2 separate regions of the Homo sapiens genome follow, and region 2 is linked to region 1. The links come from fine-mapping of genetic effects on gene expression. A gene starts in region 1. The other region holds a variant in brackets. All regions are shown on one strand. Distances are between the middles of the regions.

Evidence for each region.
Region 2: its variant is fine-mapped to the expression of TERF2 in whole blood (INTERVAL, PIP 0.94).

What each region holds. Positions count from the first base shown.
Region 1 is chr16:69,383,139-69,388,649 of GRCh38, forward strand. TERF2 (telomeric repeat binding factor 2) reads right to left here and starts at 2,869. Exons shown (of 10, transcript NM_005652.5): 1 at 2,455-2,869; 2 at 2,253-2,348; 3 at 1,442-1,572. The coding sequence starts at 2,833. RefSeq lists a silencer at 2,485-2,864.
Region 2 is chr16:69,360,241-69,365,240 of GRCh38, forward strand. TERF2 (telomeric repeat binding factor 2) reads right to left here. Exons shown (of 10, transcript NM_005652.5): 8 at 1,164-1,249. Among named protein-coding and RNA genes, the nearest start is that of TMED6, 11 kb to the left of the region's middle. The variant C/T (reference allele first, on the strand shown) is at 2,442.

The sequences.
Region 1 (5,511 bases):
ATAGCCCTTGTGTTCTAAAGGAGTTGCTACAGGTTGAGCATCCTAAATCTGAAAATCCGAAATCTGAAATGCTCCAATGAGCATTTCCTTTGAGTGCCATGTTGGCACTCAAAAAGTTTCAGATTTGAGGGCATTTGGGATTTCAGATTTTTGGATTTGGGATGCTCAAACTAAATTTAATGCAAATATTCCAAAATCTGAAATCCAAAATGCTTCTGTTCCCAAGTATTTTGGATAAGGGATACTCAATGTGTACTTAATAGAAGTTAAATGAATTATTCTAAACTGGTACCCATTCAAAAGATCCTTAACAGTTCTGAAAGTAGGCATGAATTTCTCCTCCCTTGATAATGTCTATTCTGGCATATGCCTCCCCTCAACCTAAACCTGATTTTCCTATACTAAAAATGTACTCTTGAAATTATTCTTCCTTGGAAATGACTAATATTTAAGCATTTCTTTACCAGACCAAAAGTAGTATCTGCCCAAGGTCCTTAATTAAATAAATAAAATATGTGCACCTCATGCACACTAGTTGTTTTTTAATAGGGTACCCAAGTACAATGTACACAGCCAAGAGACAGGTTTTCCTTGTGAAGCAAGGTTTTTCTTTCTACCCCACCCCCATCTTTGGGATCCCATCCTTTTAGGGGTGCTCTTTTCTTAACCATTTCCCTATTTTCTACCACCAGGGCAATGCTTAGCTGATGTTTTCCATCTTCACCTCTGCATCTGCTTCCACACCCCCCAGCCTTGGTTTTGGGGGAAGAAAAATCTTTTTCTAACTGGTTCCCACAGCCACTTCTATGTTTTAAATTAAAATAATTTCTACTGTTTGAAGCTACCTGAGCCACAACACAGTGACAATCCCAAATTCCTAGACACTCCATTAGCTTTTTTCTTGAATTCAAGAACACTGCCTGTGCCGGATTTCTATCATTCTTCTACCATTACTATTTTGCTAGCTGGCTCATTATCCCAGCACCTCTGATTCTAATCTATCTGTTCAAAAGGGATATTCTCTAAGCCCCTCTTTCTGCAGACAGAAAGAACTCAAAGTCAGTACCACATTTTCCAAGGCCCCAGTTTATCTCCTTGGTTTATTATAAACAAGGGTGACCAAACCCTAGGCCAGAGTTACTTAAGGCCCTTGTAGAGTGCTCCCGAATGGTGCAGTAACCTCCAAAATGTCAGAGCTTCAATGCCAAAGCCACAAGGAAGACCACCCAAATCACAAAAACTGAGCAACTGCCATTACTTCCCAAGCCTGGGTGGGAAAGGAGACACCTGAAGAAATAACGTCTGTGTGTGTGCTTTCTTGCTTGCTCAATCTCTCCCCATTGCTGTTTTCCTCTGCCCCACACAGTAAAGAGTAAGTGCTGTATCCTCAAAGACCCTTGATTTTTGGTCAAAGAAAAAAGATATAAAAATAGAGCCTTACAGCTTCCTTGACCAGTTTTCTACTGGATTCGACCACTGCTTCTGTCAGTGTAAATTCCGTTTTAATCATCTCCAGCACATTGATAGCTGATTCCAGTGGTGTGAGCTCAGCCTCCATATCAAAGGAACAGTCTAGGACAAAGCACAGTTTTCATTTTTAAGCTCTTTTCTAAGGGTAAAAAAGTTATGTCCAAAAATTATATATATATATTTATGGAAATGGAGCATGCAAATATGGTAAGATTTGCATTTAATTTTTTGACATATTTGCTACAGGTTGACATACACGATAAGGGTCCAAATTCAAATCAATGAATTTAACGTGACCATTTTTTAACACCTGTCAAGACAGGCAAAAAAATTATTTTTAAATACCTGCATTTGCCTCTCAAATTCAGAATATACCCATCCTCCTCAGATACGAGTGGCAAGAAACTGACAACAGCTAAATAGCTTTCAAGTTAAATTCAGAGGGGAAAAATGTCAGAGTACTTCCACTCTGAAAAACTCTCTACCATGGGGGAAAAAAGATGTCCATATGAACATAACTCACTTTAGACAGGAGCAAAGTTGGGGTGAGCAATTAACAGGTGGGAGAAGATTTAAAAAAAACACAGAAAAGCAGCCAAGACAACCTTAACCGGAGAAAACTAGAGCCAGTCGAGCCAGAAAACAGACCCATCGTAGAATGAAAAAGACCACTCTGATGGAAACTATCGCACTTTAACCTGGAATCCTTCAGTTCTAGATATAAGTTTTAAAACAAAACCCTACGCAAGTAAGCCCAGAGAAGAACACAAAAATAGCCATACCTAAATTTTCCCCTTCTTCAATCCGCGACAGACACTGCATAACCCGCAGCAATCGGGACACGGTGTGCTCCTTCCCCAAGGGCCTGACAAGCAAAGCTGGGAGAGAAGACATCGTTGGCTGGGCGACCCCCAGTCCCGACTCCCGGTCCCCCGGACCCCCTTCCCCGGCGCTCCAACCCCCCTCCCCCGGCCCGGCCCTCACCCTGCATGATGTCCCGGATCTGTCTGAAGTCCCCGTACCGGCTACCCCGAAAGGCCCGCAGCGCCTCGTGGAAGTAGAACTTGAGCACCCAGCGATTGACTGCCTCTTCCAGCCGTGCCTCCCCCGCGCCGCGCTCCGCCGGGCCCCCCAGCCCCGGCTCGTGGCGCCCCCGCCGGGCCCGCCCGCTACTGCGGGACGCCCGCCTGCCAGCTGCCCGCCCGCTGCCGTCGCTACTCCCGCCTCCTCCCGCCATCGTGTCCGATCGCCGCGCGCCCTCCCCGCCCTCCCGGCCGGGCCGCTTCCTCGGCTGTGACGCCGCTGGGTCACGCACGACGCCCGGGCCGGAAGCGGGGCCCGCCGTCCCGGCTCCCGCGGCCATGATAGAAACAGCGTTCCGAGCCGCCCGCGGGCTTCTGGGAGGGAAAGGACCGGAGGGCCCGGCCCCCTTCTCAGACGCCGTAGTTCCCGATGTGCCGGCCGCAATGCCTCCTGGGGCTTGAAGTCCACACCGCCCAGGCCGGTGAACCCGGCGGGTTTTGCAGTCAACTTCGCTCCGAATTTACAGAAAACAGCTACTATGCTAGGGACGCGGAACAGTGTATTAGAGACTGAAAAACAGGCCGGGATCGGTGGCTCTACGCCTGTAATCCCAGCACTTTGGGAGGCTGAGGCGGGTGGATCACCTGAGGTCGGGAGTTCGAGACCAGCCTGACCAACATGGAGAAACCCCATCTCTACTAAAAATACAAAATTAGCCAGACGTGGTGGCGCATGCCTGTAATCCTAGCTACTCAGGAGGCTGAGGCAGGAGACTCGCTTGAACCCGCGAGGCGGAGGTTGCGGTGAGCCGAGATCGCGCCATTGCACTCCAGTCTGGGCAACAAGAGCGAAACTCCGTCTCAAAAAAAAGAAAAGAAAAAAAAGAAAACCAAATATGTGCACCTTATTAAACACTTTGAAAATTGTGGAAGAGAGCATACACAGAGGAAAGTCTTTAAACAAATTTGTATTTTAACAAATACTGTAATTATAAAGCAAAGACCAGTGTGATACCAATAAATAGAATGCACCTGGCAACCCAGCCGCTAGACATATACTCTTTGTAATCACAAAAATAACACATTTTGTTGTAGAACAATTAGAAAAATAAGCAAAAGGACCACCCATAGTCCCATAGAGGGTCTGAGTCACTTTCAGATATCTCTGATACTCTTGGAATTCACCAACTGGCACTTGACCAAATGGAGAACCTCCAGCTCAGACCTTAGTTCAGGATGGTGGTTGTGGGTGCCTCTTCCTGAGAGGCCCAGTAACTGGTCTAGCTTCAAAGATTGTCCTACCAGCCCCACTAGTCTGGAACCTGCAAAGATCCAGTTTGGGGCCACTCAAAGACAACTCAGAAGTGCAGGTGGCCATGTCCTTGAGGATGTGAATCCCATGCTGGACCTGTGAATTAATATCAGGACCTTAATATGTATAGTATCCTGGAAAGCCAAAAGTTCTATGAGGTACACGTTCCGGGATGAGAGAAGAGGCCTCTAGGTCTGACTGATCTTTGGTGATCATAGCTGCTTTTCTTTTTTTTCTTTGTTTTTCTTGAGATGGAATCTCGTTCTGTCGCCCAAGCTGGAGTGCAGTGGCACGATCTCGGCTCACTGCAAGCTCCGCCTCTGGGTTCATGCCATTCTCCTGCCTCAGCCTCCCGAGTGGCTGGGACTACAGGCGCCCACTACCATGCCCAGCTAATTTTTTGTATTTTTAGTAGAGACGGGGTTTCACTGTGTTAGCCAGGATGGTCTCCATCTCCTGACCTCGTGATCCGCCCGCCTCGGTCTCCCAAAGTGCTGGGATTACAGGCGTGAGCCACTGCGCCCGGCCCATGGCTGCTTTTCCATTCCAGCCTGCTTGCCTTAACCAGGAACCAAATCACTTGCCTTTATTTTAGTTTTTTTGAGAAAGTTTCACTCTGTAATGCAGGTTGGAGTGCAGTGGCACAATCGTGCTCACTGCAGCCTTGAACTCCTGGGCTCAAGTGATCCTCCTGCCTCAACCTCCCAAGTAGCTAAGACTACCAGCGTGTGCCACCATGCCTGGGTAATTTGAAATTTTTTTTCGTAGAATTAGGGGTCTTGCCGTGTTGCCCAGGCTGGTCTCGAACTCCTGGCCTCAAGCACTCCTCCCACCCTGGTCTCCTAAAGTGCTGGGGATTTCAGGGTTGAGCTACTATGCCTGGTGCCAAATCACTTGCCTTTCAATTCTAACTTTTTTTTTTTTTTTCTGAGACAGAGTCTTGTTCTGTTGCCCAGGCTGGAGTGCAGTGGCACGATCTTGGCTCACTGCAACCTCCGCCTCCCGGGTTCAAGTGATTCTCCTGCCTCAGCCTCCCGAGTAGCTGGGATTACAGGCGTGTGCCACCACGCCTGGCTAATTTTTGTATTTTTAGTAGAGACGGGGTTTCACCATGTTGGCCACGCTGTCTCGAACTCCTGGCCTCAAGTGATCCACCCATTGTGGCCTCCCAAAGTGCTGAGATTATAGGCGTGAGCCACTGCGCCTGGCCAGTGCTAACTCCTCTACTTGCTAGCTGTGTAACCTTGAACAAATCCCTTAACTGTCTCTGTGCCTCTGTTTCCACATCTGTCAAGCACAAATAATGAAGGTACCTCTTGGAAATTATACGAAAAGTCAATGAGTTGCTATTTCTAATGCCTTTAGCGAAGGGCTCAGCTTGTGGTAAGGGCTCAGTAAGTGTAAACTGTTTTTTGTTTGTTTGTTTGTTTTTTGAGACAGAGTTTTGCTCTTGTCGCCCAGGCTTGAGTGTAATGGCGCAATCTCGGCTCACTGCAACCTCCATCTCCCAGGTTCAATTGATTCTCCTGCCTCAGCCTCCCGAGTAGCTGGGATTACAGGAAAGCAGGAAGCACTTAAGGTTTTCAAAGAAGTTCCCTTAAAGAGACAGTTGGGTATTTGTGGTAGATAAAGAAGAGAATGATTTTGGGATAACCAGAGGATGATGGGACTTTGAAAAATGAGGAGAAAATCCATCAAGCAGGACAC
Region 2 (5,000 bases), 23 kb before region 1:
CGGGCGTGGTGCGACACACCTGCAATCCCAGCTACTAAGGAGGCTGAGTCATAAGAATCACTTGAACCTGGAAGGCGGAGGTTGCAGTGAGCCGAGATCGCACCATTGCACTCCAGCCTGGGCAACAAAGTAAGACTGCATCTCAAAAAAAAAAAAGAAAAAAAGAAAACAATTTTGGTAGGGTATGGTATGGTGGCTCACAAGTATAGTCCCAGCACTTTGAGAGGATGAGGCAGACAGATTGCTTGAGCCCAGGAGTTCGAGATCATACTGGCCAACATGGTGAAACCCTGGCTCTACTAAAAATACAAAAAAAGATTAGTTGGGCATGGTGGCAAGGGCCTGTAGTCCCCGATACTCCAGAGGCTAAGGTGGGAGAATTGCTTTAGCCCAGGATGTCACGGCTACAGTGAGCCAAGATCACACCACTGCATTCCACCTTGGATGAGAGTGAGACCCTGTCTCAAAAAAAAAAAAAAAAAAAAAGGATTTATATATAGAAACTGTTAAGATTTTTTTTTCTTTAAACAAGAAATGCAGGGAATGACCCCCTACTACCACATCTAATTGAAGGATTTTAGGAAGAACATCAACTATAATTAAATATCATAGGCGTTATTAAAACAAAACCAAGAACTCTCTTTAAACATAAGGCGTTACTCTGACAGTCTCCATTATTTAATGGGAGAGGACATCAGACTGACTCCTTGACCAGGGCACAGTGACTCACATCTGTAATCCCAGCACTCTGGGAGGCTGAGGTGGGAGGATCGCTTGAGCCCAAGAGTTTGAGACCAGCCTGAGCAACAAAGTGAGACCCCATCTCTACAAAAAGTGAAAAAAACAGCCAGGTGTGGTGGTGCACACCTGCAGTCCCAGCTACTCAGGAGGCTGAGGCAGGAGGATCACTTGAGCCCAGAAGGTTGAAGCTCAGTGAGCCATGTTTACACCACTGCATTCTGGCCTGGGTGACAGAGCAAGACCCTGTCTGAAAAAGGAAAAAAAAAAAAAAACTGATTCTTCATGAATTAAAATGAGATCGGGAACTTACTGAACTTTTTCTAGTTCGGAGACAAGCAGCTTCTGGAATATTAACATGACAGTAACACGCATCTGTACTTCAGCAAGCATCAAGAAGAGGCCAAGGAGAATCTTCTGCTTACCCTGAACTTGAAACAGTTCATCCTCTTCCACCCAAGTCTCCTTTTCTTCAACCCCATTAGAGCTGTTCCACTTGCCTTTGGGTACTCTGAGGGGAGATCAAGGAGAGCACAGGTATAAAACAAATTCACCCTGGATTGTCCCAGATTCTGGTCTTGGCTCACTCTTGGCCCTGTACTCCTTCCTGTCCCGTTGTGACCACAATCGAGGTTCGCCTGCATGCACCTCCCAAAGCCACTGTCCTTTCTCCTGGCTGGCCAGGCATCTCCACGTAACACCCCTCAGGCTGCAGGACACCCTTCAAATTCAGCACTGAGTACATCAAGCACATCACCACCCCTCTAAAGAATCTGTTCATTTTCCTGTTTTGCTTGTTTGGTTTTGACTCTTTTAAAGGTCTCAGTATTTTTCTGATTTAGAACCTGCAAACCCCTCCCTCTCTTCCTTGGACATGCCTTCTTCCTATATCTGGACTGATTTTTCCGTTTCCATTCCCCCTTGTTCAAGCTCACGGCGCCTTTCATCAGTATTCCACTAGCCTCTTAACTAGAGTCTCTGCCGCTAGGCTCTTCCCCTTCCAAAGCCAAAGATGATTTTAGGACAATCACCCTAAAATTACCACATGCCTCTTCTATTCCCTAATGGCTTCTCTCTGCCTGAACAGTGGCATCTATATGCCTGTATGGGGGAGTCCACACCATCCAGTCTGGCCCGTCAGTTTCTAACCAACCGCCCCACGATGCCCACACCTGTGCAAACAGCACAGCCACACTGTTCTGCTCTTTCTTCCTTCCATAAGCTCTGTACTTTCCTGCCTCTCTGTAGCCCCTCTGCTTGGGAGTCCCTTCCCTGCTAAGTGACATCTCATCCATCTTTCAAGGCCATGGTTCTCAGTGAAGCCTCCTCTAACTACCAACCACAACACACACAGAAAGCCTTTCTCCTCCTGCCTGCAGTGCTGTTTCCACCATACCAAGTGCCACTTTGCAGTGTGCCCCTAACCAGGACCGCCTCGAAGGCGGGGGCCACATCTTCCTTTGTCCATCCCAAACACATAGCATACCCAGCACAGTAACACAGACCCCAATGTGAGCTGGAGACATATTAGCTGAACTAACATTGTGATTGTCAGAGAGCCACAAGGGAGTTATACCATCAAAGATTAGAGTAAAAAGCAAACAAGAATCCTTCTTGTGAACATGAAACGTTAAATGCTTGGGTGTGGCTAAAAAAAGTACAAAAGCTGAAAATAACCCCAAACTCAAATTATTCAATGAAAA[C/T]TATAGCCCATTTCTTCTAATCAACTTTGCATTTACCTGATTAATAACTGCCCTGGGAACAGAGCAAAGCACAGATCTGACCTCAGAATTATAACATCTTTTACAAACATGGAAAGTGTCTGAATTCAGAGTCTTGAGGAATTTATATAAATCAAATGACCCGCAAAAGTTAACCAAGAATAGAGACAAATTTCTGTATTCTTCACCCGCCATGAAGAAAAAACTTATTTTTAATGCTGTTTGGGTATTTTGCAAATGAATAATAAAAGCAAGTTGATGAATAAGTACATAGGCTTGAAAAAATTCCTTGAGTTCCATAAGTTTTCTATGAAATTACTTAACTAAGTGGCTGAGACAAATGGTAGACCTAACTTTCTCTTGTTTTTACATTGGATCTTATCCCCAAATGTTACTTGAGAATAATTTACTTGAGACAAAGTGAAAACATTTTACAGGAGGTTTTTCCTTCTCAGGATATTCTTGTGTTAATGACTATTCATAAATAAAAATCAGATGGGGTTATAGTTTGTTTTCTATGTGCTTATCCCAGTGCTGGAATAAAACCAGTTGGAACCTCAGTCCCCAGCTGGTCCGTCATGTTCCCTGAGTGGCTGTCCTCCCTCCCTGCACAGTCTTCACAGGTCACCTTCTCCCTGTCCTCTGTTGAACTCTCAGCACTATTACCTGTACAAATACATGCTTTGGTGGTGATTTCGCAAGACCTCTGACTTTCAGGTGATGTGTTCACTGCCTCTCCTGACTTCCCAAGTGGATGGGGCTGAGATCTGGCCGCTCCTCCTAACTGTAATGGGCTGAGTGGTCCTGGCCAAGTCAGGCCACTTCCTGGTCCTTGTGCTCCTGACTGGCAGTTTGAACATGAAGAGCAATGGTCTAGCAAGTGTTGGCAAGCTACAGTCTGGCTGCTGCGGCTTGTGTACCATGAAGCTTGGGGTGAGAATGGCAAGCCCGTTTTTTAAGGGTTGTAACAAAAAAACAAAAAAAGACAGTTGGGAGCAGTGGCTCACGTCTGTAATCCCAGCAGTTTGAGAGGCCCAGGCAGGTGGATCGCTTATTAAGTCCAGGAGTTCGAGACCAGCCTACATGGTCAAACCCCATCTGTACAAAATATACAAAAATTAGCCAGGTGCGGTGGCACGCACCTGTGGTCCCAGTTACTGGGATGGGGGCGGGGATGGTGGCTGAGGTAGGAGAATCGCTTGAACCTGGGAGGCAGAGGTTGCAGTGAGCCGAGATTGTGCCACTGTACTCCAGCCCAGGTGACAGAGCGAGACCCTGTCTCAAGAAAAAAAGAAAAAGAAAAAACAAGAAAAGAATATGGAACAGACAGACAACTCATGTGGCCCAAAATGCCTAAAATGTTACCCTCTGCTGGCTTTTTACAGGTGTTTTGGGTGTCACTCCTTAACATGCAAGAACAAAGAATCCTTATTTTACTTGGTGAATAAATACCTAGTAAACACATGCTATGTGCAAGGTGCCGTGGGAGATACAAGATTGGGGCATGGTGGCCCTGTCCAAGTGACACTGCCAACCCTGCCTTCCCTCCTGATCCCACTGCCCCTCCCTGCTCCCTGGCAGCGGTCTCCAGTCTCCAGCCTCCCTCCCTCCCTTCCCTGAGTGGGGTCTCATCAGGCCTTCCAATTTGTTGTATTAGAATTATCTGGGGCATGGTTTAAAAAGCAGATTAAAGGGCATTCTCCTGACTCTTCTAATTCAGTAGCCAGGAGCCTGGGAATATGTATTTTTTGAGCATTCCACAGGTCATTGTGTCATGAAGCCCAGCTTGAGAGCCTCTGCCTGACACACTAGACTACAGAAATCCCAGGCCTGGCCCATCTAGCATGCAGACTCTCCTACCTTCACTCTTTCCTATGCACCGTATTCTCCTACCATAGGCTCCATGACACTCTGAGGGGCACACCAGGCTTTCTCATGCCTGTATGTAAGGAGCTCCCACTGCGTAGAGTCCCCCAGCCCCCAACACACTCGACGACCTTCTGCTCATCCTTCCCAGGCCAGCTCAATGTTTGTTCCTCTATAAAATCTGAGCCACCTAAAACCTTGCTGAATAGGCTCAGCTTTTCTTCCCATAAGTGGCCAGGGCACCTCACACATACTTCTTTAGAGCAGGGACACTGACCCTTTTTTTCTGTAAAGGGCCAGATAGTATTTTCACTTTGCAAGCCTGTCTCTGCTGTGGCTACTCAACAAACTACCAATGAACAGAAAGCAGCCCTAGATAATACATTGATGATGGGTGTGACTGTGTTCCAATAAAACTTTATTTACAAAAACAGGCAGTAGGCTGATTTGGCCCCAGGGCCACAGCTTGCCAACCCCTGCTGCTTTAGGGGATTCATTAGACTTCATATCCTTGACATATGAGAGAGGGTGTATGTCTGAAACCTTCACAAATCCTCCCATTTACAAAATTACTGTAATCTCGCACTCTCCTGTTTCCTCATCTGTTCCCGGGAGCAATACCTATAGTGCACAGGATTGCTGTGAGAAGCCAATGAGATCCTGTATCAAATGAGA